Linked DNA regions of Homo sapiens: all the other regions are linked to region 5. Evidence: fine-mapped expression QTL. A gene starts in region 5. Each other region holds a variant in brackets. All regions are shown on one strand. Distances are from middle to middle.

The links.
Region 1: its variant is fine-mapped to the expression of CAPG in amygdala (GTEx, PIP above 0.99).
Region 2: its variant is fine-mapped to the expression of CAPG in whole blood (TOPMed, PIP 0.92).
Region 3: its variant is fine-mapped to the expression of CAPG in unexposed skin (GTEx, PIP above 0.99). The same link has a PIP of 0.9 or more in anterior cingulate cortex, breast, nucleus accumbens, pituitary and thyroid.
Region 4: its variant is fine-mapped to the expression of CAPG in whole blood (INTERVAL, PIP 0.90).
Region 6: its variant is fine-mapped to the expression of CAPG in lymphoblastoid cells (GEUVADIS, PIP 0.92).

The regions. Positions count from the first base shown.
Region 1 is chr2:85,752,981-85,758,052 of GRCh38, reverse strand. It overlaps ATOH8 (atonal bHLH transcription factor 8), which reads right to left and starts at 4,062. Exons shown (of 3, transcript NM_032827.7): 1 at 3,096-4,062. The coding sequence starts at 3,863. The variant A/G (reference allele first, on the strand shown) is at 2,555.
Region 2 is chr2:85,590,635-85,595,706 of GRCh38, reverse strand. It overlaps VAMP5 (vesicle associated membrane protein 5), which reads right to left. Exons shown (of 3, transcript NM_006634.3): 2 at 3,845-3,982; 3 at 2,301-2,759. The coding sequence ends at 2,550. Among named protein-coding and RNA genes, the nearest start is that of RNF181, 2.6 kb to the left of the region's middle. RefSeq lists a silencer at 1-70 and enhancers at 2,014-2,513, 2,514-3,015. The variant T/A (reference allele first, on the strand shown) is at 2,842.
Region 3 is chr2:85,356,278-85,361,349 of GRCh38, reverse strand. It overlaps ELMOD3 (ELMO domain containing 3), which reads right to left. Exons shown (of 14, transcript NM_001135022.2): 4 at 4,098-4,383. The coding sequence starts at 4,151. Among named protein-coding and RNA genes, the nearest start is that of ELMOD3, 4.0 kb to the right of the region's middle. The variant T/C (reference allele first, on the strand shown) is at 2,295.
Region 4 is chr2:85,377,294-85,382,365 of GRCh38, reverse strand. ELMOD3 (ELMO domain containing 3) reads right to left here. Exons shown (of 14, transcript NM_001135022.2): 11 at 4,892-5,022. Among named protein-coding and RNA genes, the nearest start is that of ELMOD3, 25 kb to the right of the region's middle. The variant C/T (reference allele first, on the strand shown) is at 2,643.
Region 5 is chr2:85,408,235-85,413,306 of GRCh38, reverse strand. It overlaps CAPG (capping actin protein, gelsolin like), which reads left to right and starts at 2,941. Exons shown (of 10, transcript NM_001747.4): 1 at 2,941-2,990. RefSeq lists silencers at 2,714-2,763, 2,874-2,923.
Region 6 is chr2:85,504,796-85,509,867 of GRCh38, reverse strand. No RefSeq gene overlaps it. Among named protein-coding and RNA genes, the nearest start is that of PARTICL, 32 kb to the left of the region's middle. The variant G/A (reference allele first, on the strand shown) is at 2,659.

The sequences.
Region 1 (5,072 bases), 340 kb before region 5:
CACTTTGGGAGACAGAGGTGGGTGGATCACCTCAGCCCAGGAGTTCGAGGCCAGCCTGGGCAACATGGTGAAACCCCCATCCCTACTAAAATACAAAAAATTACCCAGGTGTGGTGGTGCGCACCTGTAATCCCAGCTACTCGGGAGGCTGAGGCAGAAGAATCACTTGAACCTGGGAGGTGGAGTTTGCAGTGAGCTGAGATCACACCACTGTACTCCAGCCTGGTCAACAGAAAGAGACTCTGTCTCAAAAAAAAAAAAAAAAATGAAATGAAAGAAATGTTCACTGCTCTTATAGGCCTCCTACCTTTCCTCACTTTCTCTTCTCAACACTGGATGAGGTCAGCAATATTACCATTTTACAACTTCAGCAACTGAGGCCCAGAAAGGGTCAGTGACTTGTCCACAGCCACACAGAAGGCATGCAGGGGAGGAACAACTCAATGCCTGGCCTCCAGTTTCCCAGATCAGTGCTTCTTTCATGGTACCAGGAAGCTGCTCAGGAGAATGAAGCCCCAGGCCAGAGCCACAATCCCAGAACCCATCTCAGTGCCACACTGGCCAAGGCCCCATTTCAGGCGGAGCTGATCTGCCTTTTGTCCATTTCCAAGGACCCATTTCAGTCAGGCCCGAGCCTAGCTCCAGAGCTGCAGCTCGTCTGGATTCGGGGAGGGGGTGCGGAGTACATTTTACAGAGAAGACTGAGGCCCAGAGGAGGAAGGGGCTCCTCCAGAACACAGGACTTCCTCTATCGAATGGGTGCCATGGTGGTGAGGAGGACATGGTGGGTGTGGCCTTGGCCCCTGGTTCTATGACCAGAAACGTCCTGGCTGTATTTCTTTCCTTCCCAGCTAACAGGCAGGTGCCCACTATGGCCTGGCAGCCTTTCTGGGGAAGGGGCAGAATGGCTAGGGCAAGGAGGAAACAAACAGGAACAGGTGCTTCTGTGACCATGCATTTGTGTGTGCTCTTGAGCACGTGTAAGGAGCATGTGTGTGTGTACCTGCCTGTGTGTTTGCATTGCATACACACGCTCTCCCTGAGAGGGCATGGGTGTGCCTTCTACTTAGATACACTGAACTTGCCCTTTTTATAGAGAACTTCCCACGGTAAGGGGGGAAGTAAAAGGAGACCAGGATGAACAATCTCATCTCAAAGGGTCTGCCAAGTGTGCACCCTGCCTTGATTGTTAACAAACATCACAGGCTGGGGGCTGGGGGGGTGGCACATGACGCTGATACAGATGGCACTGTGGGAAGCATTTGGCCAGGAGGGCATTCCAGAAACTGCTGTTATCTTCCCTAACCCACTAGGTGACCTTGGACAAGTCTCCTTCCATCTCTGGGCCTCAGTGTTCCATACTATAAAATGAGTTAATCCAATTTCGACAGGGATTATGTTTAGATCAAATGAGATGGAATTGATTGTTGAATGAAGTAAAAGTCAGTGGGCACATGAGATGTAACAAAGCACTCAGATGAGTATTCTCTCAGCATACAGAGGCAATAGAGGAGCACAAGGGCCCAGAACCTGCAGTCAAAGCCCCTAGGTGCCAGCCCTGACCTGCTACTCAACAGCTATGAGGCTCTGGGCACGTGCCTCCCCAGTCTAGGAGGGGCTTCCCTAGTGGCAAGGTGGGCAGGTGGACAGGCATCTCTCTGCCCTTCTGTTATCCTTCTGTCCTGGGGAGTGGGTTGCAGGATCCCCCACGCACCGCCACCTCTACCCAGCGATGCAGACACAGAGCTGCTGGCTCAGGGTGGGACTGACTGCTCCACTGGACCCACCGCCCAGGGTTCCAGCTGGTGTGGATGAGGGCAGAGGCCCAGCCTGGTCTGTGACAGCCACCCGTCCCCCACCCCCACCCCCACCCCACCTCACTGACCACTTTCCCCAAGCCCAAGCAAGACACTTTGGCTCAAAAGTCATAGGGCCTCTTTCCTCCAAGGATTCAATTTCCTTTCCATGGATGGACACAGGCACTACTGCCCCACCCCACCCCAACCCCCAGCAGGAAGAGGAGAGTGATCCAAAAAGAAGATCATGGTTTCTGAAATGTTTTGTTGCTGGATAAAGCCCAGAGAAGTTGAGCAACATTCCTGGAGTCACACAGCAAGTCAGCTGCAGAGTATGCAAATAAAAAGAAAAAAAAAACACCCTTCAAACCAGCCACATCTACCCTAACCCTTCCCCACGCCCTGTGTGGGGGTGGGAGAGAACTCACCACCTCCTTCCTAGAGCTCCTTCTCGCTAAGAAAATAAGAAGCCTAGAAGCCCAAGCGATTGTCCCGCCCCACCACGGGTAATTCTTGGGTTAAGTATTCTTCCGCTACCTGCGCAGGGGCACTGTCTGGTGAGGGCAGCCCGCACCAGCCCCAAACTAAAAAGTCCCGGACCCACCCCAGAACTAGGCTCTGAAGATGCTCCAGAGGGAATCCCCAACCTAGGCAGTCCCCTCGGCAGAGCTGCCTGCTTCACCACGGGTGAAAGGAAGGGATCTGCTAGAAAGACTCCCACCAGCCGATTCCTGAGCCCACCCCTGGGGAGAGGGCAC[A/G]GGCTTGTAGCGCGGGTTCTTGAGGATGCCAGGGCAAGGAGTGCATAGCCCGGAAGCAACCTGAGTGTTCGGGGCATCACCGCTGGGGCCTGAAGAGGGGCTGACAACTCCCCCGGACTGTCCCACCGCAGCGTTCCGGACCTTGCCACCACCAACTGGAGAAGGCTCCCCCCTTCCTCCGCTGACAGATTCCCACATTTCCCCTCTCCACTCCGCACCGCGCCCAGGGGACTCCGGCAGGCAAATACTCGCTGCCATAAAAGTGAACTATGGAGGCTGAAGTCAGAAGCGCAGACAGCGTTACCCCCGAGGCGGGGGTTGAGGGCGGGGGGTGCTCGGGCCAGAGATAACCAACTCTTATAGCCACTTTGAAAACTATGATCCATACCCTAGGACTGCCCACACCTGTCTGGGCACCAGGGTCGGACCGGGCGGGGCAGCTTGCCCCTTAAACACACCTCTATCCCGCCCCGGCCACTCGCCCACCCATTCCCGCAGTCGTCCCCCGGCGCAGTGAGGGCGTGCGGCGGCGAGCGGGTACCTGCTTCCTGAGCGCCTCGAAGGCTGCGCTGATGGTGTGCACCCGCGTCCGCTCCCTGGCGTTCGCCAGGAGCCTCCGGGTCTGCTGCAGGGCTTTGATCTCGGAGGAGGCGGCAGTCGCTTCGCCCGGTCGTTTCCTAGGCGACGCGGAGGAATCCTGGTGGTTATTGTAAATTACGTGTGAAATTGACGAGTAGGAACTTTCCCCGGGGCGCGTCGGGGGCGCAGGGCGCACAGTGGACTCCGGGGGCGCTGGCGGTGCTGGGGGTGCTGACGGCGCGGGGCGCGCGGGCGGTGCGCACAGCAAGATGCGAGGACGCAGACCCGGCTCCCGGAAAGGCTGTGCCTCTGGGCCCCCAGGTGCCTGGCTCTGGGGCGCAGGAGGCGGCGGCGGCGGCGGCGTGGGGAGTCCTGGCCCCACTGCGCCTAGGGCGAAGCAGCGTTTCCGCGCGTCGGAGACCTCGGGCGCCCGAGAGCCCCCGCGCTCCCCGGCTGTGTCCGTGCCCCCTCTTGGGGGAACGGCCGGCGCCACTGGGACTGGCACCGGCACCGGTACCGGGACCGGCTGCAGCCGATGGGTCCTGTCCCGCAGCCCGTTGGTGGCTACGGCGCGGGGCTCGGGCGCTTCCAAGTCCAGTCGGAAAGTTTTATAGCCGTTCGCGCGCCGCGCCGGCTCCTTGCCTTTCCGCTTGAGCTTCTTAAGGCCGTTCAGCTCCTTCACGCACACGGTCTTCCACGGCCCGTCCTCGAGGACCGGGATGTGCTTCATGGCGCGGGCGGCGCGCGAGGCAGGGGCGTGGGGCTGCCCGGGCCGCCGCCGCGCTCAGCGCCGAGGAGTCTCTGGCTCTCCCGCTTCGCCCGCCCTCCCCCTCCCTCTCTCCCTTTCTCCCCCTCGCCCCGGGCAGCTGCGCCGCCGGCTTCGGGAAGCCGCCGGGCTGTCCGTTCCCGGAGCGCTCAGAGTGTCATCTGAAGTCGCTGCCTCCTTGCCAGCATTTCTGGAGAACGCCCGCTGCGCTCCATCTGTGTTTGTTTAGCCTCAGTTTACACAGAAGCCCAGTTCGCGAGATCAGTCAGCGCCGCCGCCCGGAGAGGAGGCAGCTCCCGCCGCCACCGCCTCCCCAGCCCGGGCCGCCCGAGCCGCGAGCGCCTTTAAAGAAACAGGAAGCATTTTTCAAAACAGCTGGGCCGCCGGCCGCCTCCTTTGTCCGCGGGCTCCCTACCTCCCCCCCACCCCCATCCCCTTGGCCCAGAACCTGCCTCCTCCGGCGCTCCCTCCCCGCCCCTACTCTAGTCGGGGGCGCTTCTATGTTCCCAGAGGACAGTCCGCTCCTGCACAACCGCCCCGAGCACGTGACTTATGGGCCCCCGGCCCTTCCCCAAATCACAGCGGGGCCTTTTCTCCCTGGCCTTGCCGGCCTCTCGGTGACGCAGCTCCGACCTTGCCCACCCGGCACCTTCCCGCCGCTCCCTCCGCCCCAACTCGCCACGAGACAGAAAACGCCGGGAGCTGGGACTTCTGCTGGGGGCCGATGGGGAAGGGGAGACTCCGGAGTTGCCCGGCGACCCACACCCGCCCGGCACGGCAACCCAGTCCACTCTCACTTGCTGGAGCGGGAAAGCAAGAGGAGCAGAGGGCTTAAGACAGGGAAACTGAGTTTCCGAAAGCTCCAAAGTCACGCAGCAAGTCACAGAGGCAGAGGAGGGTGGAAGCTTCGGATTTAGGCAGACCTAACGTCTGCGAGCCTCCGCAGTCACCTCACTCCAGGCGCCCTGCTAAACCGGGATTTACTCATCTGTGAAATGAGAAATTCGGAGAACAACGCCTAAGTCACAGCATTGCTCTGAGGAATTAAAGCACTAGGCACATAGGAACGGGTCGTCAAATGGTAGCTGTGGTTGTTGTTAGTATTATTTATTGAGGCAAAACAGCTACTTGAGGCAGATTTCCTGGGCTCAAACCCCAGCTCTGCCACTCACT
Region 2 (5,072 bases), 180 kb before region 5:
CTGGCCAATAAACTGACGAGCTGAGAGAGGCTGGCCAATCAGAGTATCCGAGGGACGGGCATAGTGGCTCGTTAAACAGCACGGAAAGCGGAAGTACTAATTCGGCCCCCTCTCATTGGCTTGAACAAGTCAGGTGACCAGAGACTAACGCCAATGATGGAGATCTGGCTGGTGAGGAATCATTTGTTTTGGAGTCGGAGCCAAGACTGAATTCCCGGGGATTTCTGGCGCGATCGCGTCCAAGTGTCTGGTGTGTAAGGCTCTTCAGTCTGCCCTGAAGCTCAGAGGGCTTCGACAGTACAGATGCTAGAGGCCTCTGCGAGCAAAGGCGGCGCTGGCCCAGGGGTTCAGGTTCCTGCGAGCGTTGGCCCATGGCGCTTCCGGATGCGCTGTCCGGATCCCCGCCGGACACTTCTGCCCCCGCGGCCCTCTAGTTGGTTCACCAGTTTGCGTTTGATTCCTGCGCATTTCTTATGTGTTAGGCATAATAATAAAGGGTGGGGCAAGCCTCCCCAACTGAGAGAGATCTCTTTGCCGGAGAACCTGGGGCCTCAACCAGCTCATGGGACTGTTACCTTCAGCCCGTTGCTATCCCTAGCTTCTGTAAAACTGCTGGCTTGTACTAAGACCTTTTCATTCCTGGCTACACATGAATTCCCAGAGGAGAGAATGGGCGCGGAGGAGCTTTAGAAACACCCGTGTCTGATACCTTCGAAGATTCTGATTTAACTGATCTGTGGTGGGGCCTGGGCAATGGCACTTGTATAAATTATGCAGGTGAAGCAGGTTTAAGAACCACTGCACTCAATGATTTGGATGATAGGTACTATTTAGCATCTAGAACTGTTAGTCTGATGTATGTTTTACACGCTCGATCATCCCCTCAATAGACCCAGGAGCTAAGCGTCATTATGCCCTTTTTACCTCAGAAGTGGCTTGCCCAAATTTGCAGTCTGTAAGTGGTGTTGCAGACCAGCTGCAGGGCCAAGTGCTTTCCTCCATCTTTCCCAAGAGAGGAAGACGCTAATGCGCTCAGTAAAACTAACACGCTCTGTAAGGGGTGAAGCTCCACACAACTCAGGCTTATTCTGGTTTCTGTCAGTAGCGCTCACTTTACCCAGCAAGGAACTGCTTATTTTACACACTTGACCCTGAATTCCCCTTGCCACTCACACCTGAGTTTGAACTGCAGCTAAGTAGCCCAGGCAGAGGCTGCCCTGTTTCCACAGTCTTGGTGTGGCTTTATTTCCTTCTTCCATGCCTTTGCCCAATGATCTTTGCTATGGCCCTGAAGGCACTGCCTCCCTGGCCTATATGGCCCTGTAGCTTTGAAAAGCCTGAATTCAGGCTGGACATGGTGGCTCACGCCTGCAATCCCAGCACTAAAGGCAAGAGAATTGCTTGAGCCCAGGAGTTCGAGACCAGCCTCGGCAACATAGACCCCGTCGAAAGAGGGAGGGAGAGAAGACACAGGAGAGACCCCGTCGAAAAAGGAAGGAAGGGAGGGAGGGAGATGGGAATACCAAGGAGTGCTTTAAGGTCCCCATCTCTTGCTGTCACTTCCCCCATCTGCAGTCTGATGTAAAGCTTGAGGTAGATAGAATGTGGAAAGAGAAATTGAGGAGTGGGAAGTGTTCAGAGGGGAAACCATTTATCTGAAGGTGAGAGCCTTATGAAAAATTTTTTGGGCCAGGCGCGGTGGCTCATGCCTGCAATTCTAGCACTTCGGAAGGCCGAGGCAGGTGGATCACCTGAGGTGAAGAGTTCAAGACCAGCTTGGCCAACATGGTGAAACCTTGTCTCTACTAAAAATACAAAAATTAGCCAGGTGTGATGGTGGGCACCTGTAATCCCAGCTACTTGGGAGGCTGAGGCAGGAGAATTGCTTGAACCCAGGAGGTGGAGTTTGCAGTGAGCTGAGATAGTGCCATTGCACTCCAGCCTGAGCAACAGAGCAAAAACTCTGTCTCAAAAAAAAAAAAAAAAAATTGGTGAAGTGCTTTCTTCTTTGTCATCGCATCTACAGTCTCATTGGTCCTCTAAGCATCCCCAAGATGACAGAAAAATAATAGATTTCATTCTCAGAGAAACAGGCTCAGATGGGGAGGACTGGTTCAAGGGTCTGCTTTGGGGGCCATTGTGTTCTTGCATCCACACTCCCTGTCTGTGTCGGGCTGGATCAAGTAGGGAAGGGAGAGGAAGGAGCCATCTCCCAGGGGTGGAGTCCTTTGGGTGATGGGCTTTTTAAGCAGCCCTAGGGGTAGAGACAGATGGGATTAACCAACCTGGGGACCTTCACACACAGATACCAGCTTTTAATCAAACAGCAGTTTTTACTGAGCTCCAGGTGGGGCTGGCCCAGCATGGCCAGTACAGCAGGCTGCCCTCAAGGGCCAGTCTGTGGCATGACAGGAAATGCAGGGGTGCACATGTTGGGGCTGCCCTTTGGCACTCACTGGGGTGGGTCAAGGGAGAGCAAACACCAAGGTCCTCTGGAGACCAGAATCGGCCAGTGCAGCCATTTGGCTTCTCCTTCAGGACCAGCTGGGTCAGTTCCCAGGCCCTGAGGCAATGCCTGCATCCTGGGTCCGTGGGGCACTACTGCTGTCACTGCTCTGAGGGAGAAAGACGACCAGCAGCACAATCAGGATGATGAGCAGGACACCAACCACCACCAGCCCCACGCAGATCCGGTAACGGATGTTCTCCCAGCACTTCTTCTGGGCCAGGTTCTGTGTAGTCTTGTTGAAGGTTGAGCTCTGCGGATACCCCCAGACACAAAGTGGGAGTTAGCTGGCACCCTCTTGGCCTGGGAGCCAGCTCCTCCCAACCCCATCTCAG[T/A]AAGGCTTAGTCTCCTCCTGCATCCTCCCCATCTTGTCTACTTTCTTTCTTTTTTTTTTTTTTTTGAGAAGGAGTCTCTCCCTGTCACCCAGGCTGGAGTACAGTGGCACAATCTCAGCTCACTGCAACCTCTGCCTCCCGGGTTCAAGCAATTCTCCTGTCTCAGCCTCCCTAGTAGCTGGGACTACAGGTGCACACCACTGCGCCCGGCTAATTTTTGTATTTTTAGTTGAGATGGGGTTTCACCATACTGGCTAGGATAGTCTTGAACTCCTGACCTTGTGATCTGCCCACCTCGGCCTCCCAAAGTGTTGGGATTACAGGCGTGAGACACCGCGCCCGGCCTTGTCTGCTCTCTTTCTATACCACCTGCCGTGGAACCCTCCCAGCCTGACTCATCTCAAACACCGGTGTGGCCCTTGACTTTCAGCCCTAGTGTCTCACCCTCAGTTAACAATGCCAGTACTCAGGCTGGACACAGTGGCTCATGCCTGTAATCCCAGCACATTGGAAAGCCAAGGTGGGAGGATCTCTTGGATCCAGGAGTTCAAGACCAGCCTGGGCAACATGGTGAGACCTCATCTCTACAAAAAATCAAAAATTAGACAGGCATGGTGGTGCAGGCTTGTAGTCCTAGCTCTTCAGGAGGCTGAGGCAGGAGGATCACTTAAGCCTGGGAGGTAGAGGCTGCAGCAAATATGATTGTGCCACTGTACTAGCCTGGGCGACAGAGTGAGACTCTGTCTCAAAGTAAAAAAGAAACAAAAAACGATACCAGTTTTCTACCTTTAAGAAGGTCCACAGCTTCAAACCAAGGCCTTCTTATCTTGTGGGGTCTATCTGTTGCATGTCTAGGCTATGGGTGCCTGAGGAAACCCAGAGGCCCCACACTGGCCCTCAAGAAGGCCTCAACCCCACCAAGGAACTGGAGATCCTGAATACAGCCCAAGAGAGACTTTCCCAATCCTCTCCCCTCCCCTCCATGCTCCCCCAGGCCTCACACCATATCCAGGAGTTGGTCTGAACGCTGCTGCAGTTCGGCCAGCTTCACACCACGCTCCAGGACCTTGCCGAAGTTGTTACGCATAATTTCCGTCACCTCGTTCGCCTGCTGCTGGCACCGCTCCAACTCTATTCCTGCCTGGACACCAAGCCCGAGGTCAGGGCTGCATGAGGCCCCCACCTGGCCCTCATCTGCCCCTGAGATCTAGAAGCCTCCTTCTCCCCCTGTAGGTGGGTACAGCATGAGAGTAACAGCATCCTTCGTGTAAGGGTATGATGTGTGCGGAGTGAAGGTCTGGCCTTCGGGGTGAGTGCGGCACACCTTAAGTCTCACAGGCTCCTCCCCTTGCACGTCAAGGCAGGGCCTAGGACCTAGGTAAGTCCCGGCTTCCAGCACCTCAGCTTCCTCTAAGCTGTCCCAAGGTGGGATCTTCCCAGGACCCCACCCTCCCACAAAGCTGATTCTTTTCTCACCTGCTCCAGAATGGCGTCTACCCAATCAATGCACAGCTGCCCTAAGGTTTCCCACTGGCCTAAGAAGGCAGCAAAGAATGGGTAACCAAGCTACCTGGCTGGAACACACAGGGAGGAGACCTACCCTACAGGCTAGAAAGGTAATTTTGAAGCAGCACACATCATAGTCTCTGCCTAACCCCTCTATCCCCAAACTGAGAAGCTCAGATCTTCCTCTTTGGGCCTCTGACTGGTCAGGCCAGTTCTGCCTCCTGGCCTGATCCTGCTCCCTATATCACTGCTCCAACTTCCCTCTCCGTCTGGGAACCTCAGTGGTACCGGTTTTTGGCCTCCAGCCTTCCACTCAGCTGGGGTCCTCACTGGGGTCCAACTTACAGAGATGAGACTAACTCTTGGATTTCCCAGCCTGGGGGGCAGCTTTGCCTAACAGAAAACACCAGCTCATTTCAGAGGACTGGGAAGGGAGGTCTTGGATCCAAGCTGGGGAAGGTTGAAATGACAGGGGAGAGAGAAAGTCTGGGTCATGTGCAAGAAAGGCACTGGGCTTTGGGTGCACGTAACAGAGAGAGACACCAGGCAGGAGGCCCTGGTATAAGCCAGAAGCCTAGGAGCAGGGACATTTCAGGGAGATGAATACCAGTGGATTAGCAAACCACAGAAACTCCTTCCTCTTAGCCTACTTCCCCACAGCCCATCCCTGTTCCCTTCCCCTCCTTACAAGAAGGGCAAGCTTCTTTTCCTGCCAGCCCACGTCA
Region 3 (5,072 bases), 52 kb after region 5:
AATGTTATCTCAAAAATTTTATACCGATTTCCTGGCTCTTTGAAAGTCTGAGGGTTCTGAGTGAGCGAAGTTTAGTGAAGCAGTTTCCTATGGCCTTTCTGCTCAGCCAAACCTATCCCCTGCTACAGATGAAAAACAAAAAACCGACCAAAATACTCGGCCAATTGTTTGTAACTCATTTCACAGATACAGAGCTAATTTTTCAACGTGTTCTTTTAAAATCCTAAAAATCACCAGGTGTGGTGGCTCACAGCTACAATCCCAGCACTTTGGGAAGCTGAGGCAGGAGGATTGCTTGAGCCCAGGAGTTCGAGAGCAGCCTGGGCAACATGCGGAGACCCTGTCTCTACTGTTTAAAAAATAAAAAATCATCATTTCTATAGTTTGTTACTAGAGAAGTTTCTCTGAACATATAGAGCACCAAGAAGTATCATGTATCTAAAAAAACCATATGGCACCATTGAAAAGAAGCCCAGAATATTCCCAGATGATACAATTCTGGAGAATGGAGAAGTAATTCTACCAGTGAAAGAATTTCCTGATCAACATCATTAAAGATTATGTAAAAATGTAAAGGGCTTATGAGCCTAAGTTTGTTCCTATGTTACCATATTCACTGAATTTTCTGGAAAAGTAACTTTAATAAAGTTTAATCTCAGAGAAAAAAAAAATCATTAAGGCAAAAAAGAAAAACCAGCCGGGTGTGGTAGCCCACGCCTGTAATCCCAGCACTTTGGGAGACCAAGGCAGGAGGATCTCTTGAGGTCAGGAGTTCAAGACTAGCCTGGCCAACATGGTGAAACCCAATGTCTACTAAAAAGTACAAAAATTAGCCGGATGTAGTGGCACATGCCTGTAATCTCAGCTACTCAGGTGGCTGAGGCACGAGAATGGCTTCAACCTGGGAGGTGGAAGTTGCAGCGAGCTGAGATTACGCCACCGCACTCCAGCCTGGGCAACAGAGTGAGACTCCATCTCAAAAAAAAAAAAGAAAAACCAACCCAGTGGAAACATTAGAAAAAGGATATAGATGGTTTACACAAAAGGTAACTGAAATGGTGGCTTTTTTTTTTTTTTTTTTTTGAGATGGAGTTTTGCTCTTGTTGCCCAGGCTGGAGTGCAATGGTGCAATCTCGGCTCACCTCAACCTATGCCTCCCAGGTTCAAGTGATTCTCCTGCCTCAGACTCCTGAGTAGCTGGGATTACAGGCATGCGCCACCACGCCCTGCTAATTTTTAGTAGAGTATTTTTAGTAGAGACGGGGTTTCTCCATGTGGGTTTTTTTGAGATAGAGTCTCGCGCTGTTGCCCCACTTGGGGCATAGTGGCACGATCATGGCTCACTCACTTCTTGGCTCAAGGGATTCTCCCACCTCAGCATTCCAAGCAGCTGGGACCACAGGTGCACACCACCATGCCCATGTAGCCATGGGGTCTACATATGGTTGCCCAGGCTGGTCTCAAATTCCTGGGCTCAAGCCACCTTGACATCCCAAAGTGCTGGGATTACAGACACGAGCCATCCTGCACAATCACAAATTGGTTTTAAACATATGAACAAATGTTCAACCTCACTCATTAAAACAAAACAAAACAAAAAAAAGCAAAACAGAAAAACGTCACCAGGCACCGTGGCTCACACCTGTAATCTCAGCACTTTGGGAGGCTGTGGTGGGTGGATCACCTGAGGTCTGGAGTTCAAGACCAGCCTGGCCAACATGGTGAAACCCTGTTTCTACTAAAAATACAAAAAAGTATTTTTTTTGTATTTTTAGCACACCGGGCGTGGTGGTGCACACCTGTGATCCCAGCTACTCGAAAGGCTGAGGCAGGAGAATCATTTGAACCTGGGAGGCGGAGGGTGCAGTGAGCCGAGATCGCGTCATTGCACTCCAGCCTGGGCAACAGAGCAAGACTCCATCTCAAAAAAAAAAAAAAAAAAAAGAGTCATGTAAAACTACTGTGTTTCATTAGTCAGATTATCAAAGATCAAAAAGTCTGATAACATGTACATTGGCCAGAGTGCATAACACACTGGAGAGTAAACTGTTACCACCTCTACAGCTTGATAGTACCTAATGAAATCATACATGTTTTGTACATGCGGGGCCTGATACTGCATTCTAGTAATTTATCTAACAGATATATTCATCCATGTGCAAAACCGACATGTTTACATTTATAGTGTGATTCTTTGTCATACTGTTTATAATAGGGAAAGGCTGGAAAAACCTAAATGTTCATTAATGGGCTGATTTACATAAATAAAAGCACATTCACTCAGTGAGATACTA[T/C]ATGGCCATAAAGACAAATGAGAAAGTGCTTTACTTTACAGGCAATATGGGACAATTTCCGTGATGTATTAAGTGAAAAAGCAAAGGACAGAGTCTATACACTATTTTACCATTTTATTTTTTAAAAGTACATAAGCACATTTGCTTGTCTCTGCAGAGACCATTTTCACAGTTATACCCAAGGAAGCAGTAGCTTTGTCTCCAGCAGAAAAACTGAGTGGCTGGGGGGACAAGGGTGGAAGGTGGTTTCTTCACAATACATATATCGTTCTGTACTTTTTGCATTTTGAACCATGTGAATGTATTATGCCAAGGCCCTGGAATCCCAGATCATCCTGTTACTCTAATCCTTCTGCTTTTTTTTTTTGCCTTTCCAACTAATGCTCATTAAACACAACTTTCATTTCTTCATGTTCCAGATGCAAGGATGGAGGCCAAAACACCTCACAGCTGACCAAGCTCCCTGGTAAAGGAGCTCATGATGGCTAAGCATTTATTTCCCACTGTAATGCAATCAACACACCTGCTGCAGATCCCTCTCCTCACTTCCATCCCTTTGTTCATGTAGTTTTCCTCCAGAATACACCTCCACTCTCTTCTCTGATCAAGGTCAGTTCCACCTACTCAAGGCAACCTACCTTACTAGCTGGGGCTACAATGCTGTCTCACACCTCTAAGTCCAGTAACCCTTGTATGCAGCAAAAGTTCCTCTGCAAAAGGCCTGCATAAGGACCTTCTCTTATATTTCTTTTTTCATTTTTTTTTTTTTTTTTTTTGGAGACAGAGTCTCACTTGGTCACCCAGGCTGGAGTGCAATGGTGTGATCCCAGCTCACTGCAACCTCCGCCTCCTGGGTTCAAGCGATTCTCTTGCCTCAGCTTCCTGAGTAGCTGGGATTACAGGCATGCACCACCATGCCCAGATAATTTTGTATTTTTAGTAAAGACAGGGTTTCATCATGTTAGCCAGGCTGGTCTCCAACTCCCGACCTCAAGTGATCTGCCCACCTCAGCCTCCCAAAGTGTTGGGATTACAGGCGTGAGCCACTGCCTCCAGGCTCTTATATTTCTTTTATATGTTTCACAACCATTGGCACAGTACTAAGCACAAAATATATTTCTCAAATTTTTGTTGAAATTTTATCTCTAAAATATTTGGTGATTCATTGTGCTGAACAACTTCCTGCAGGCATCTGTGTACCTGAGATTCATTTCATCCTTCCTTTCCTTCTCCAATTCAGTCCCCTCCAGTGTCCAAAGACTTCCCTCTTTGGAACAGTTCGCATATTACTACAGTGAAGAAAATCTTTCTGGAGACCCAAAGCAAAGGCTTTGTCCCAGTCTGGCCACTGAATCCCACAGCCTCCATTTAAGACCATTTTTGGGTGGGCAAAGTAGTGTGAAAGGTAAGGCATGTAGGGTTAGCTGCCCGGCTCATACAAAGACATATCACATTGAACTGAGTCCTGAGGATGATCAGGCCAAAGCAAGCGTTTCACAGGGAAGAGGCTAGTAAGGTAATGATCCAAATCAATGAAATACAGATTTCTTGGGTGATTCCTCAATGAAATTCTCCCCACTACCCAAGCAAAAAGAAAACAAAAATCTCATAACTCACTTACAAAACAAGCTATTAGGAAAAGCAATTGACCCTGAGGTGAATAGAAGCTCCTTCTTACAGAACAAAGAGAACTATAATGAGGGTTTCTAAATTTTTCCAAATATTCTCTTAATATATTCTTACTATACTTAATGATATATCTCAAACCAACACCACCTTTCCCAAATAAGAGTGCATGCTTACCTGTCCATCTCTTAATTCTTCTTTACTATGGAAAGAGCAAGATTTTTCATTCATGACTCAAAATCATTTGTTCATGTGAGCTTTGTCCTTGGGCCCAGAAAGCATTTTAGTAAGGTCTGAGATCAGAAGCTATGTGGAGAGCCAGAGATCCAGTTGCTCTACCTTTGCCTTCCTTGGCAGTCACTCAGACTAAGAGTAAGAAAACAGTCCCTTTGTGCCATCCGAGGGTGTAGGAGGTTTCTGTGAGTGCTGAGAGAAGTCCTCTGAGGTCTTCGAAGCCTCAGCTCTGCACAAAAGAAAAAAAAGAAATTGAAAAAGAAAACTGGTTTCACCATTCAGTTATGCCTCTGTTGACAATTTTTTTTTTTTTTTGAGTTGGAGTCTTGCCCTGTTGCCCAGGCTGGAGTGCAGCCGTGCGATCTCGGCTCACTGCAACCTCCGCCTCCCGGGTTCAAGCGATTCTCCTGTCCCAGTCTCCCGAGTAGCTGGAATTACAGGCGTGCGCCACCACACCCTGCTAATTTTTGTATTTTTAGTAGAGATGGGGTTTCACTATGTTGGTTAGGCTGGTCTTGAACTCCTGACCTCGTGATCCGCCTGCCTCGGCCTTCCAAAGTGCTGGGATTACAGGCATGAGCCAACACGCTCGGCCTGTTGACAAAATTTAAGCAGCTGTGAATTTATTCTGAATGAACAACTTGCCTCAGCCAAATGCTTACCTCTTACTACCCAAGCCACAGGATGGCCAAAAGGGGACCACACAGGGGACTGTGAGCTGGATTCTGTGTCCAAAAGGCAGCAGCACCACTAGAAGGGATGGGGTCTGTTTCTGACAATGGAGTTACTGGGACCTGGGCCAGCTTATCAAAGGCGTGAGGCTAAAGGTGTCACCTTGGTGGGTGGTCTTAGCTGAAGTGCTCAGGCTTTGTTTAGGCCTCACACACAGGCTGGGTCAGGGGCTTATAATACTAGACC
Region 4 (5,072 bases), 31 kb after region 5:
CCCAGGTTCATGCCATTCTCCTGCCTCAGCCTCTGAGTAGCTGGGACTACAGGCACCCACCATCACACCCAGCTAATTTTTTGTATTTTTAGTAGAGACGGGGTTTCACCACGTTAGGCAGGATGGTCTTGACCTCCTGACCTCGTGATCTGCCCGCCTCGGCCTCCTAAAGTGCTGGGATTACACTCATGAGCCGCTGCACCCAGCCCTATGTCCTGCCAAATCTTTTTTTTTTTTTTTTTTTTTTTTGAGAAGGAGTCTTGCTTTGTCACCCAGGCTGGAGTGCAGTGGCAAGATCTCGGCTCGCTGCAAGCTCCACCTCCTGGGTTCACGCCATTCTCCTGCCTCAGCCTCCCGAGTAGCTGGGATTACAGGCACCCGCCACCACGCCCAGCTAATTTTTTGTATTTTTAGTAGAGACGGGGTTTCACCGTGTTGGCCAGGATGGTCTTGATCTCCTGACCTCACGATCTGCCTGCCTCGGCCTCCCAAAGTGCTGGGATTACAGGTGTGAGCCACCGCGCCCAGCCCAAATCTTAAACATTGACAGCAATTAAAGCCTCATCTTCAGGCCTGGTAGAAGATGCCAATCAGAATAAACTGCATTCCTAAGACACGGGGCCAGAAATTAAAGCTACTCAACTCTTCAAGGCCCAGGGACTATTGCGGAAGAGGTGGGTGCATGAGATTGCAAGAGCTGATTTTTTAAAGATAAAATAGGTTAAGTTTCTTTATAAATTAATCATGAATGTCAAAGGCACACTGATGCAAAAGCAGCACATGAGCCCCTGCATCAGATTAACAAGATTTTCTTGAAGCATTAACCAGCCCCTTAATAAAGGTTATAAAGGTTATAAAAGGCTTATGGAAGTTATATCTTATGGTCAAGATTAAAATTTTATAGATTGTTTACAAAATTTTGAAAAATAAATTTAATTGGCTTCATGCTGTTTTTATTAGGGCTTATTGATTGAAAAATCAAGTCTCCGCTCTCAAGGAATGGAGATTTTCACCTTCTTTTTGAAATCCTTGAGTTATTGCTTTGGTTAAAAGAATGACTTATCTTATAATGACCTGTGATCCTATTTTGTGATATCAAGTTTTAAACCTTTGATATTTGACAAACTTTCCAAAATCAAATCATAAATTATGTCTTTTTCTGACCTGATAAATCCTTTAAGATATTAGGCTCCATAAAGTCCAAAAATGACATAATTTGGCTTATTTGGTATAAAAATTATACAGGAAGCATTGTCAAATATGAAATGGTGTACGATTTTCTTTGGGCTGTATTTGTATAAATGTGTTATTGGTATGTGTTCCAAAATTATGGGAAACTCCTAAAATTCTGATATAACTTAGTGTACATTATCAGTAATAATTATAATTGTTATGTTAAATTATTCTGTGCCACAGAGATAACAAATTTCCTTGTCAACTGGGTCTTCAACAATGGCTTCCCTAAAACTTTTTGTCATCCACAGACAATTGTTGTGTTGTTTGGTCCTCTTTAGAAGGTGGTTTTATAATCAGCTATAAAAGGCCAGGCATGGTGGCTCATGCCTGTAATCTCAGCACTTTGGGAGACTGAGGCGAGCACATCACTTGAGGTCAGGAGTTCAAGACCAGCCTGGCCAACATGGCAAAACCCTGTCTCTACTAATAATACAAAAATTAACTGGGTGTGGTGGCAGGTGCCTGTAATCCCAGCTACTCGGAGGCTGAGGCAGTAGAATCGCTTGAACCTGGGAGGTGGAGGTTGCCATGAGCCAAAATTGCACCACTTGCACTTCACCCTGCGCGACAGAGCAAGAGTAGTCTAAAAATAAATAAATAAATAATAATCATCATCTTAAAACTCTAACAGGGGCTCTTGAATGCAGGTTTCTGATAACTTTGGAGATTGTGACATCAGAATAGAGGAAAAACTTTCAGACTCATGGAGAGCTAAAATGTTCATGAATATCAAAGCAGAACAGGAATTAACTGCATGGATTGAACTAATTTTTTTGACCTTTTGCTTAAAACGTTGCTGATCCTTTGTTTTGTTTTTCAGAGTCTTCAAACTTCTCTTTTGAGCTATTGACAGCTTTTAACAATTTAGTATACTGCTATGACCAAAATTTGGAACATATTTGTTTCTCTCTACCTGAGTTCTCCAGAATTTGGAAACTATTTGTGAGTATTCTTAATTTATGGCAATACAGTTATTTGCATAAATACAATAAGAATCTGTTTTCACTGCTAATAGGACACAACTGGAGAAACTAATTATTTTACCAAGGCTTTGACTGGAACCATGTCATTTCTTTTAAGAACTCAAACTTGATTTATGAAGCCAATAACGCCCTTGGGAAACTGGCCTCATATTTTGTGTACACAGTCCCTGAACAGGGTTTCTGACTTGTGTTAAGTAAAGAATGTTACTTTATGGCAGGCCCAGGAGCCCCAGGTTTATCCTGGAACCTCAAGAGGAGAGGAAATTCACCCAACTCATAGATATTTGATGGTACAAATCCATGGCAAGGCTTGGCTTTAAAAAAAAGTCTTGCCTGAGATTCCTTCTATATAACAAAGTTCCATCAAAGCCAATTTTTAAAAAAAGCCTATGTGAAAAATAACTATTCTTGCTGTACTTTATA[C/T]AAATAATCTGGCTAAGTATTATAAAGCAAATCGGTCCTACCATGATTTGTCTTTAGTAAAAACAGGAAACTGGAGAAAGAAAAATTATGTTTCAAAAACTATAGTACACCTGTCATTAGATCCTAGTCTTGCCTAATGTTTTTCAATTTTAATAATTTTCTACAGTTTGGGCTGAATTCTAATTTTTCTTGGCTACAAGTCTTCAAAATAATGTTTTCAGCCAGGCACGGTGGCTCACACCTGTAATCCCAGCACTCTGGGAGGCTGAGGCGGGCAGATCACGAGGTCTGGAGCTCGAGACCAGCCTGACCAACATGGTGAAACCCCGTCTTTACTAAAAATACAAAAATTAGCCGGACGTGGTGGCATGTGCCTATAATCCCAGCTACTCAGGAGGCTGAGGCAGGAGAATCACTTGAACCTGGGAGGCGAAGGCTGCAGTGTGCTATCGCGCCACTGCACTCCAGCCTGGGCAACAGGACACAGCGAGACTCCGTCTCCAAAAAAACAAAACAAAACAAAACAAAATAATGTTTTAAATTTCTTTTCCTCCTTTTTTTTTCCATTTTCCTAATTTGGAGTCACTGAAAATTAAGCCGTACTTTCTTACAGCCCTGCAAACTGAAGCCAGACAACTTCAGAAGAAAATAACAGCAACCTATTTACATACATAAGCCACTTTCATACCTGCCTACTGATGTATAGACTTCAGAAGAATGTGGCCTATATTGATATCCAGGATTGTTCTTTTGTTTGTTGTTGTTGTTTTCACTTCCTCCCCGTATTTTCTCTTCATAGGACATGAGACTTCACAACCTTCTAAAAATGAACTTTCCTAATAACTCGGGGACCTATCCGTCTAGGAATAAACCATCCTAGCCGTAAGAGATCAGATGAAACCTAAGACCAGAGATTCATTTTCTTCTAAAATGCTTTCTCCAAAAGATTTTAAAAAAGAAAAGGGGGAAAATGTGAAAGGAAAATATCTTGGGCCCCCAAAATCACTAAGCTAAAGGGAAATGTCAAGCCAGGAACTGCTTAGGGCAAACCTGCCTCCCATTCTATTCAAAGTTGCCCCTCTGCTCACTGAGATAAATGCATATCTGATTGCCTCCTTTGGAGACCCTAAGCAGAAACTCAAATGTAATTATTTGTCTCTTATCTACCTATGACCTGAAAGTCCCCTCCCTGCTTCGAGTCCTCCCGCTTTTGCTTCTAGTTGTCCCGCCTTTCTGGACTGAATGAATGTTCATTCTTACATATGTTAATTGATGTCTCATGTCTCCCTAAAATGTATAAAACCAAGCTGTGCTCTGACTATCTTGGGCACATATCATCAGGACCTCCTGAGGCTGTGTCACGGGCATGTGTTCTCAACCTTGGCAAAATAAACTTTCTAAATTAACTGAGACCTCAGATTTTCAGGGTCACACTGTAAAAAGTAAAGTAGACGTTCCTCTTCAAAGACTTTCCTCCCCATCTAATTAAGATAAATAGTAACTTCTCTTAGAAGCAAAATTTATTCAAAGACCTCTGCTAACGTTCTTAAATATCTGCTAGCCATAATGAAGAAGTCACTGTACTTTATGTTCTTAGCTCCCACAATTTAGCCTAAATATTTGCCCTGGCATGCTTATACTGGTCCAAGCAAGCATTAAGTCATAGCCTATTCTTCTTCCTTATTTGAAGGTGTTTTTACCTTTCTCAGCATTCCACAAGTTATTTCTTCCTTCCTTTGTTCTCCTCTTCCTTTGCTTCTTTTAAAAAGTTCTAAGTTGCTAGCCAATCAAGACAAATACGAATGTGAAGTCCCATTCCAGCCAATAGAAACCGGACACAGCAGTAAAGTATATGGGTCAAGTTATAAATGATCCTGTCTCATTTATTCAGTGTACTCTCGTGGCAAAACTGCTAGTGAGTGTACCCTTTCTGCAGAAAGTAAAAAAAATCCTTGCTGAAGAAATTAAATTTATGTTCAAGTGCTATTTCTTTACGGCACCAAAGAACAAGCATTTCTAACAACACTATGATTTCCATTCTGCAGATGAGGGAATCAAGGCTCTGAGGAGTCGAGGAACTTGCTTGAGCTACACAGCTAATGAGCGGTACAGCTCATATTTCAATGCAGGTCAGACTGACGGGGAAGCCCATTCCTGGTTTATCTCAGCTGTCCTGGGAGCCCTCTCGGCCACTCAGGTCCTAGCTCCACGGCCCTTTCCTTTCCTCTGGCTTCCCACCAAAGTCTCACCTGGATGTGGTGACGAGACAGGCGGAAAATCTCCTGCGCCATCGGCAAGGTCTTTGAGTCCATCACCAGGTAGAGCAGATGCAGGAGGGCAAGGAAGCCTGCGCCTCTCAGGTCTGTGGCTGGATTCGCTCCTGTAACAGAGACCGTGAGGAAACAGGGTGTGGCAGCGAGCAATGCTTCA
Region 5 (5,072 bases):
CGCCCAGCCAGTTGTTTCGCTGTTAATGTGTAAACCTCTCCCCTTTTTTCCTGTGGTGATAGGAGAGGCTTTAGCCTAGACAGCTGAGTGTGAGGAACAGTGATTCCCATTGATCCTTGTTCCCTCCGTGGGTCACAGAGTCCAGAACTTAAGAGCCACCCAAGGTATGCGCTGTTGTGACCAAAATCTATGAAGCTTTCCAGCGCTGGGGCTGGGGATGGAAATAGGAGAGTGCTCTGTGGTTTAACTTTCTTTCCTCCTGTGGAGAAACCGGGAGCTAGGGGAGTGGCCAGGCACATTTCTACCTCAGGTGCTGATGGCACATTGCAAACTAAAGGGAAGAGAAAGAAGTCTGGGTTTATCGAGCATGTATTATTTGCTCATTAATCATAGGATCTCATTTCATCTTCACATTTAACTGTATGCACGTGTTACAGATTGGGGCACAGGGAGGCTCCAGGAGGTTAAGTCACTTGCACAGCTAGTAAGGAGCCAAATTGTCTAGCTCTTATCACTCTACCAGGTTAACCGCCCAGCCTGTGGTTTTGTGGGGACTAGGCCCTACTGGGATTCTCACCCAGACTATCCTTTTTTTTCTTTTTTAAACTTTTAAGTTCAGGGGTACATGTGCATGTTTGTTATATAGGTAAACTCGTGTCATGGGGCTTTGTTGTACAGATTATTTTGTCTCCCCGGTATTAAGCCTAGTACCCATTAGTTATTTTCCTGAATCTCTCCCTCCTCCCACCCTCCACCAAACTACCCTATTATTATTGTTATTATTATTATTTTTTGAGACTGAGTCTTGCCCAGTCACCCAGGCTGGAGTGCAATGGCGCAATCTCGGCTCACTGCAACCTCTGCCTCCCGGGTTCAAGCGATTCTCCTGCCTCAGCCTCCTGAATAGCTGAGATTACAGGCATGCGCCACCACCCCCGGCTAATTTTTTGTGTCTTTAGTAGAGATGGCGGTTTAACCATGCTGGCCAGGCTGGTCTCGAACTCCTGACCTCATGATCCACCCGCCTTGGCCTCCCAAAGTGCTGGGATTACAGGCGTGAGCCACCGCGCCCGGCCCATATTACCCTATTTTTAAGCCTGGCAGTTTGGCCATGGAGACACTTGGATGCTAGCTACAGGCCATGTTCTTTGGGGAGAAGATTTAACTTCCCGTCTTGCTCTAGTGAAATTTTATCAATTTCGTTTCAATGAGAAACATTCATCCAGTATTGCTTTTTTTTTTTTTGAGATGGAGTCTTGCTTTGTCTCCCAGGCTGGAGTGCAGTGGCGCCATCTCGGCTCTCTGCAGCCTCCGCCTCCTGGGTTCAAGTGATTCTTCTGCCTCAGTCGCTCCAGTAGCTAGGATTACAGGCACCCATGACCATGCCCGGCTAATTTTTGTATTTTTAGTAGAGACAGGGTTTCACCATGTTGGCCAGGCTGGTCTTGAACTCCTGACCTCAGGTAATCTGCCTGCCTCAGTCTCCCAAAGTGCTGGGATTACCGGAGACAGCCACCATGCCCAGCCTATCCAGTACTGTATTTTCTCCAGACTTTTCCCACGCAGTCAAATAATGAGGTTTTGTTTGAAGGTCTGCTAATTAGGAAGATTTGTTCCAGATTTTGCTCCAGGGTCCCCAGGCCTTGACCCTGAACCTGGAGCCTTGTCTCAAGCCAGCCTGCTGACCAATACCTTTCCAGGACAGGCCGGCTAGGTTCTGGGCAGAGGAACTACGCTTGTGTGGCTGCATAACTGGGTGCTCACTTTCTCCTGGAGCCTCATACTGAGTCCGCTCATCCTTCCCCCAGGGATTCAGAAGGGAATGGGAGCCTCCCTTGCAGGGGCTTCCACTCCCTGTGTGTTTGTGGGCAGTCTCTTGTGCTCTCAGGACCTCGGTGTCCTCCAGAAAGCCAGCGAGTTGGAGGAGACAAGCTCTAGGGTCTAGTGACTGTGATGTAGGCAGGATAGTTGCCCTGGGTCAACCCAGGATGGGCTGTCTCTCAGAGGGCCCAGGGCCCAGAAGTCATGATGATAAACATCTGGTGAATGAGAAGCAGACCAAAGGGTAGAGACCTGAGAGGCATCAGCATGGCATGCGGAAGATGGTGAAGAATGTTTTATGGCCTCAGCCATTCCCTGAGAACTGAGCTTAGCCAGGTGCAGTAGCCCACGCCTGTAATCCCAGCACTTTGGGAGGCCAAAGTGGGAGGATTGCTTCAGTTCAGGAGTTCTAGACCAGCCTGAGTAGCAAGACTCTGTCTCCAGAAAAAATAAAAAAATTAGTCGGGCATGTTGGTGCAGGCCTGTGGTGTCAGCTGCTCAGGAGGCTGAGGCAGGAGGATCGCTTGAGCCCAGGAGTTCAAGGCTGCGGTTAGCGGTGATAATGCCACGGCACTCCAGCTTGCGTGACAGTGAACCCTGTCTCAGGAAAAAAAAAAAAACAAAAAAAACCAAAAAACTGATCTTAAAAAAAATCAAATACTTGCATTCAGGGCAAGGAGAAAGACAAACTGAGGGAGGAGGAAAAAGTAATGTGAAGCCAGTGACCCTGCCCAGAAAATGTGACTAACCCAGCAGCGGTGGGGGCTGTGCCGCGCCTGCCCCAGGCCCTGAATGGAGAACATGGCTTTCCTTGCTGGTCTCAGACTCAGAGATGCCCTCCCTGATTTGCCTTGGCTGTGACCTGCAGCGGGCTGAGGCCACTGTGGTGGGGCTGTGTGGACCTCCAGCCTCCCTGTGTGCCCCTCTGAGGAGACGGCCTGGCATACCCACTGCCCACCCCAGTGACTGCTCTTCTGCTTCAGGCCTGCTGGCCTCCCAGCACTGCCTGCCCCTCCCTGTCGGGGGACATCGCCTCCACACCGGCTGGGGAAGGAGCCCAGGGGTGGGGCTGGTGGGTGGGGCTGGTGGTTGGGGCAGCCAGAGAAGTAAGAGGGAAGTGAGAAGCCGGGTGGGGCAGGCTGGAAGGAAGACGAACCTACGAAGCAGAGGTAGGAGGAAGAAAGGAAAGTAGGAGTGTTGAAAGGTGAAGGTGGCAGGGTGGCTGCCAGCGCGGCTGGCTGGTACCCTCCTGGGTGGGCAGGCGAGGGCTGGCTGTGGTGGCCTGGGAACAGAGACCCACATTTCTGGATACCACATTGTGCCAGGGTGGAGTTCCCCCAGCCTGCTGTCCTGCCAGCCTTATGCCAGGCTCCAGGCACCTGATCTGATGGCAGCTGTGAAGCTGCCCGGGAGGATGGGTGGGCTGTGCCCATGCTGCACATGGAGGAACTCTTGGGTCAGGGCTTGTCCCAGCTGTGCCAGACCTCCTGACGGAGGCCACCACACTGCTCCTGAAGGCCCTCAGCCAGACTGGAGGTGAAATCAGATTAGAAGCTGCCTGTCCCCAAGACAGGACTGTGGTGTGATGCTATTTGGGTGGGAGTGGCTTGGGGAGGGGGCAGGGCAGTCCTAGCCATTTGAATTCAAATGCAAGTGGCACATTTGATTATTTTGCAAACTCTGGAAGACCTTGGCTGAGGGTCTAGGTGGACTGTCTGAGGTAGGAGGTGGGGAGGGAGGAAGTGGTTGACCCTGGGGAAGGGTAGGAGACCTATTTGGTATCAGGGGAAAAACCATTTGGAATCCCCAAATGAGGCCTCTGGACCTAGATTCTGAGAATGCCATGTCCCAGGCTGGGAGATTCAGTTTGGTTTCGAGGGTGGGCACCTACCTCCACCAGGAGAAGTGGAGGTGCTGTTTCATTTCACACCTAGGGGCAAGCAGGGACTGTGAAGGGAAGAGACCTATTGGGGGTCAGTGGAATCAGGGTCTGAGGAAGGCAAAGGTACCACTGGACCCCGGCAGGATTTTTGTCCCTCTGATGGCTGTCAAGTCTTTCCTTAAAGGTGTGTGTAACGGTGACCTCCTCTCCGAGGTCCCCCAGTGTGTCCTCAAAGACAGCCTAAGTCAGGACCATGGGACAGCCAGCAGGACTTGCGTCCTCCCCTCCCCCAGCCCCATGGCAGTCTGGGACCCCTAGCCCCTGCTCTCTGCCTCCTGGGGCTGCTCCAGCCTGTCCCAGCCTTTTGAAATCCTGGGCTATCCCTTAGGTGCCACCCCAGTCTAATAATCAGAGCCCAGCAGGTCCAGTTAATCAAATGCATTCTTTGAGCACCTGCATGAGGTTCCAGCTAGATCCAGAGGCAAAATACACTTCCTGCCCTAAAGGACCCTACAGTGTAGTAGTGGAGGTAGGCGGGTCCATAACTCACCACACTATGGCAGAGTGGGGAAAAGTAAAGGCTTTAAGAGGTGTAGAAGAGGCTGTTTGGTAAGGTGGTGAGTTTCCCATCACTGGAAGCCTTCAAGAAGAGGATGGTAAGGGATGCTATAGAAGAGATTTCTGCACTATGCGTGTATGGGTATGTGTAGGGCGGTGCAGGCAGAGCAGGACTAGATAAGAACTTTAGCGCTTTCTTTTTTTTGTTTTATTCCTCCCCCCCGGCCCCAGCTCCCCTCTTCAACTTTAGCACTTTCTAATGCTGACATCTGTGATTCTGTGACATTCCCCACTTAGAGGAAGTTCGTCTGCGGTTTCACTGGGTATGGTGGCTCCCTTGTTCACTGCACCCTGCAGCTAAACCATAAAACATGGGCTATTCTTTGTCTCTGTGCATGTCACCCCCAGTGCCAAGCCCCCAGCACAGACGTTGAGTGGAATGGAATAGACTCTTTGCTGGGCTGCTTGAGGAACAGAGGCATCAGGTGTGTCCTTGCTCCAGTTGAGATGTGAAGCAGCCAGTTTATGCTATAAAACAGGCTAAAGTATGTGCTCCCAGGGGAGAGGGCTGGGAGAACTCCCAGAGAAGGCGGAGGCCACTTAATGTCCTGGAAGTTTCCTTGGACAGCTGGGGCTTGATACGGGCCTGGAAGGATAAGGGGGCTTGTGTGTGTGTGTGTGTGTGTGTGTGTGTGTGTGTGTGTGTGACAGATTCTTCCTCTGTTGCCCAGGCTAGAGTGCAGTAGTGCCATCTCGGCTCACTGCAACCTCTGCCTCCCGGGTTCCAGCAATTCTCCTGCCTCAGCCTCCT
Region 6 (5,072 bases), 97 kb before region 5:
CTTCCCTATTATTTTATTTACTTATTTCACTGTGGTAAAATATACACCACACAAAAATTACCATTTTAATAGTTTGTAAGTTTTCAGTTCGGTGGCATTAATTACATTCACATTGTTGTGCAACCATCACCACTATCCATCTCCAGACCTTTTGCATCTTCCTCAACTGTTGAAGCTCTATACTCTTTGAACGCTACCTCCCCATTCCCCACTCCCCCCAGCCCTTGGTAACCACCATTCTACTTTCTGTCTCTATGAATTTGACTACACTAGGTGCCTCATGTAACTGTAACACTAGGATCTTTCTCTCTCTCTCTTTTTTTTTTTTTTTTTTTGAGATGGATTCTTGCTCTGTCGCCCAGGTTGGAGTGCAGTGGTGCGATCTTGGGTCACTGCAACCTCCGCCTCTTGGGTTCAAGCGATTCTCCTGCCTCAGCCTCCCAAGTAGCTGGTATCACAGGCACCTGCCACCACACCTTGCTAATTTTTGTAGAGACGAGGTTTCACCATGTTAGCCAGGCTGGTCTCGAACTCCTGACCTCAGGCGATCTGCCCGCCTCAGCCTCCCAAAGTGCTGGGATTACAGGCATGAGCCACTGCGCCCGGCCAGCCACCAAGCCTGGCCAATCTTTGTCCTTTTATGTCTGGTTTATTTCACTTAGCACAGTGTCTTTGAGGGTTTATCCATGTGGTAGCTTGTGTCAGAATTTCATTCCTTTTTTTTTTTTTTTTTTTAAGGTGGAGTCTCACTCTGTCACCCATTCTGGAATGCAGTAGCGCAATCTCTCGGCTCACTGCAACCTCCGCCTCCCAGGTTCAAGCAATTGTCCTTTCTCAGCCTCCTGAGTAGCTGGGACTACAGGTGCATGCTACCACACGTGGCTAATTTTTGTATTTTTAGTACAGACAGGGTTTCACTATGTTGACCAGGCTGGTCTTGAACTCCTGACCTCAGGTGATCCACCCGCCTCAGCCTCCCAAAGTGCTGGGATTACAGGCATGAGTCACCATGTCCAGCCAGAATTCTGTTCCTTTTTTAAGATTGACTAGCCAGGCGTGGTGGCTCACGCCTGTAATCTCAGCACTTTGGGAGGCCCAGGCGGGTGGATCACCTGAGGTCAGGAGTTTGAACCACCCTGACTAACATGGTGAAACCCCACCTCTACTAAAAATACAAAATTAGCTGGGCGTGGTGGTGCACGCCTGTAATCCCAGCTACTCTGGAGGCTAAGACAGGAGAATTGCTTGAACCTGGGAGCCGGAGGTTGCAGTGAGCCGAGATTGCGCCATTGCACTCCAGCCTGGGCAACAAGAGCAAAACCCCATCTCAAAAAAAAAAAAAAAAAAAAAAAGACTGAATAATATTGCATGGTCTGTATATGCCATAGTTTGTTTATCCATTCATCTGTCAAAGGACATTTGAGTTGCTTCCACTTTTTGGCTATTGTGAATAATACTGCTATGAACATGAGTATACAAATATCTCTTTGAGTCCCTGCTTTCAATTCTTTTTTTTTTGAGATGGAATCTCGCTCTGTTGTCCAGGCTGGAGTGCCGGGGTAAGATCTCAGCTCACTGCAACCTCCGCCTCCCAGGTTCAAGCGATTCTCCTGCCTCAGCCTCCCAAGTAGCTGGGACTACAGGCGTGCGCCACCACGCTCAGCTAATTTTTGTATTTTTAGTAGAGATGGGGTTTCACCATGTTGGTCAGGCTGGTCTTGAACTCCGGACCTCCTGATCCGCCCGCCGCGGACTCCCAAAGTGCTGGGATTACAAGTATGAGCCACTGCACCCGGCCAATTCTTTTGTGTATATACCCAGAAGTGGAATTGGTGGATCAAGTGGTAATTTTATGTTTAATTTTTTGAGGAACCACCATACTGCTTTCCATAATGGCTGCATCATTTTACATTCCCACCAGCCTATCTAACCTACTTTTACTTATATATTTTGTTTAGTGCCTGTCCCCTACCCTTCTTTGAATGTAAGCTCCATGAGGCTAGTAGAGATGTGTTTCCTGAGTATCTAGATCCTTGTTTGGCACATGGTAGTCAGTGTTTGTTAAATAAATGAACTGATTCAGTGCCTCTGACTTCATTTGCATTATTTTGATCCCCATTCAAGGGCTGGCTTAATCCCAGTGGAGCCCTTTTTGGTCCATCTCCCCAGCAGGCTCTTTCCCAACTAGGTGTATGCCTCTTGCAACTCATCCTCACTTTCTGCTTGTATTCTAGTTGTCTGTGAGAGTGCCCTATCTTTCCCTCTGAATTATAATATCCTTAATGTTAGGGAGCTTGGTTTTTTGGCCTTTTCTTATCTTTGTTTTGCCATCTTTCTAGCTCAGGGGCAGAGACTCAATACATTTGTATCAGAAGGACACTCTAAATGTCCAGGCTGAGCAGTGCCACTGTCAAGGATAGGCTTGAGCAGTCCAGAGCTGAGACCAGGCCTCCAAAGAAACTGGCTGTGTCGCTATGGCACGTGCCTCTCTCTCTGAGTCTGGTCCTCTTTTGTCTGATGAGGGGATTAGACCAGTGACCTCTCAGGTTCCTCTTAGATATTACATGTGCTGTGGGACCGAGTGTTTTGCAGGAAGAGTATGGTCTTCATCTGTGAGAGCCCATAGTCTGATAGAGATAAAATAAACATGTAAAGAGC[G/A]GTTAGGGAATCAAGAGGAAAGCTGTGCCAGGGCAGTCCTTGCCTGGAGGGATGGGCGCCACATCACCCATCTCCCTCTCTCAGCCCCGCTCCCCACTGCTGGAGCTTCAGAGCACAAAAAATCCGGGAAGCTCCGAGAGGACTTCATGGACATCCCATCCTTGTTGAGAGAGAGAGAAAAAAAATCTTTACAAGCTCACATGATTTCATTTGGTTATTTTAAACTGTTTATCTTTCTGTCCTTTCCCCACGGAATTAACGTTTGCAGGCAAAAAAATCAACTTTGAGAAGTTTTCCTCCTTTGCTCAGCTATTTGTGTATAAATATTCCGTGAGTAAAGTCTCTAAAAGACTGCCAAGCCCCCCACCCACCCTGTTCCCATTCCCTAGTAGTTGCTGACTAAGAAAGACTTAATGAGCTTACATCCAAGAGTGGAATGTTTCAATGACTCTTAAAGCCCTCTATGTATTTTTAAAAATCATTTTATCCCTGGTGGTCTACTGGTTAGGATAAAAAAAAAAGGCTTTTCAAATGCATAAACAGTGCAGTAACAATATTCACAGATTATTTAAACAAATCACTCATAATCTAACAGCCCTCACACTACTCTTTATTTTTACCAATTGCCTTCCAGTTTTACCCATATGAACACGTAATTGACACTGTGATTATCAAGCTGTACATACAATCTTGTATTTTACGTTTTCCTTTTAACATCTGTAAACAAATACACATTTTCCCAAATGTATTCTTTGTAAATATCACGAATTAGTAAATCCAGGTAAACTCATCACTGATGGATTGCCCAGTGAGTAGGCACCAGGCTAAAGCATGTAGGATATGGAAAGGTAAGCGTCATCTCTGCCCTCAGTAAGTTTACAGTCTTATGGAGAGATCAGACATACATACATGAAACAATCCGGGACAACAAATAATTAGGTGGAGAACTGTGATGCACTCAAGTCAGGCAGGCCTGCGAGGTGGTGGTGCGTTCCCTTATCAAGGGTTTGGGGACTGAGAGAAGGCTACCTCCCTGTGAAGATGGAGGAATTGATTCAGCTCAGATGGGCAAAACCGGAAGAAGGTATGAAGGTGCTGAATAAGGGGAACACACAATTGGCAGTGGTCACTGAGGCAGCCGGCCCAACAGGCACAGAAGGCTCATGTGCCCTCCTCATTAGCCAGATGAACTGAATCAGGCCCAGAAGGGAATGGGACTGGCCCCAACCACATGGCTGCCTGGTGTCAGCCGTGGTGAGAACTCTATCGGCTCACAGTGGGACCATAGACAGGAAGAGGTGGGAATGGGGGAGAGATTTGGAGTTTCCTGAAAGCTGGACTGAAGTGCAGAGTTGACGTCCCTGGGATGCAGGAGGGGCATATGGTGAAATCAGTGCTACAGTCCCATTGGTCTACTAGGAGTGTGCATGGGTCGCTGTTGTTTTGGTTTTGAGATGAAAGGGTTCTATCCAATTAGATTGACCACAGAGTGAGGGGACTTAAGAGGCTGGAGAGCAGGAGGTGGAAGGGAAAGCAGGCGCTTCAGGCCTCACGAGGAAACACAGGTGAGGAGCTTCCCCTCTTCATTGCTCTGTCCTTGCCTAGAACAGTGCCTGGTGCAGGGGAGGTCCTGGTATTTGTGGAATGAGAGCTGAATCTAGTTTTGCAAAATTTCTGTACAAAGTTTGGCACATCTCTGTATTCCTGCTCCAGGTCTCCGTGTCACCACTGTAAGATGAAGTTATTAGTTATTTTTTCTTTTTCTTTCTTTTTCTTCTTTTTTTTGAGTCAGAATCTTGCTCTGTTGCCCAGGCTGGAATGCAGCAGAGTGATCAGGGCTCACTGCAGCCTCAACCTCCTGGGCATAAGTGATCTTCCCACCTCAGCCTCCCAAGTAACTGGAAATAGAGACGTGTGCCATCACGCCTGGCTGAGTTATTTTTCGAGTGTCACTGAGGGACAGGTCAGACCAGGAGACTGCATGAGTCTCAGGAGCTAATAGTCCTGAGCTTTGCTGAGGTCTGTAAGGATTGGCACGTGGAGCCAATGACATGAGATCCCAATTAGTCATCCTGGCAGCTGCTTCCTGCCTCCCTTCCCCTGTTGCCTGCTGCTTGGACCTCTTTGGCGTGGTAAGTGGATACTGCCTGGACTCATCAATTATTACTGCTGGAGGGCAGCTTACGCAGCAGCTCCTGTGCCCTCCTCATTACCCAGATGAATTGAGTCAGGCCCAGAAGGGAGTGGAACTGGGCCAAATGACATGACTGCCTGGAGTTAGCCATGGCAAGAACCTCATCAGCTCACAGTCCAGCCCCACTCATTCATGCATATAACAGATATCACTGAGCACATGCTATGTGTCAGGCACTGTTGCAGTGCTGGTGATGCAGCAGCAGGCAAACAGATGAAAA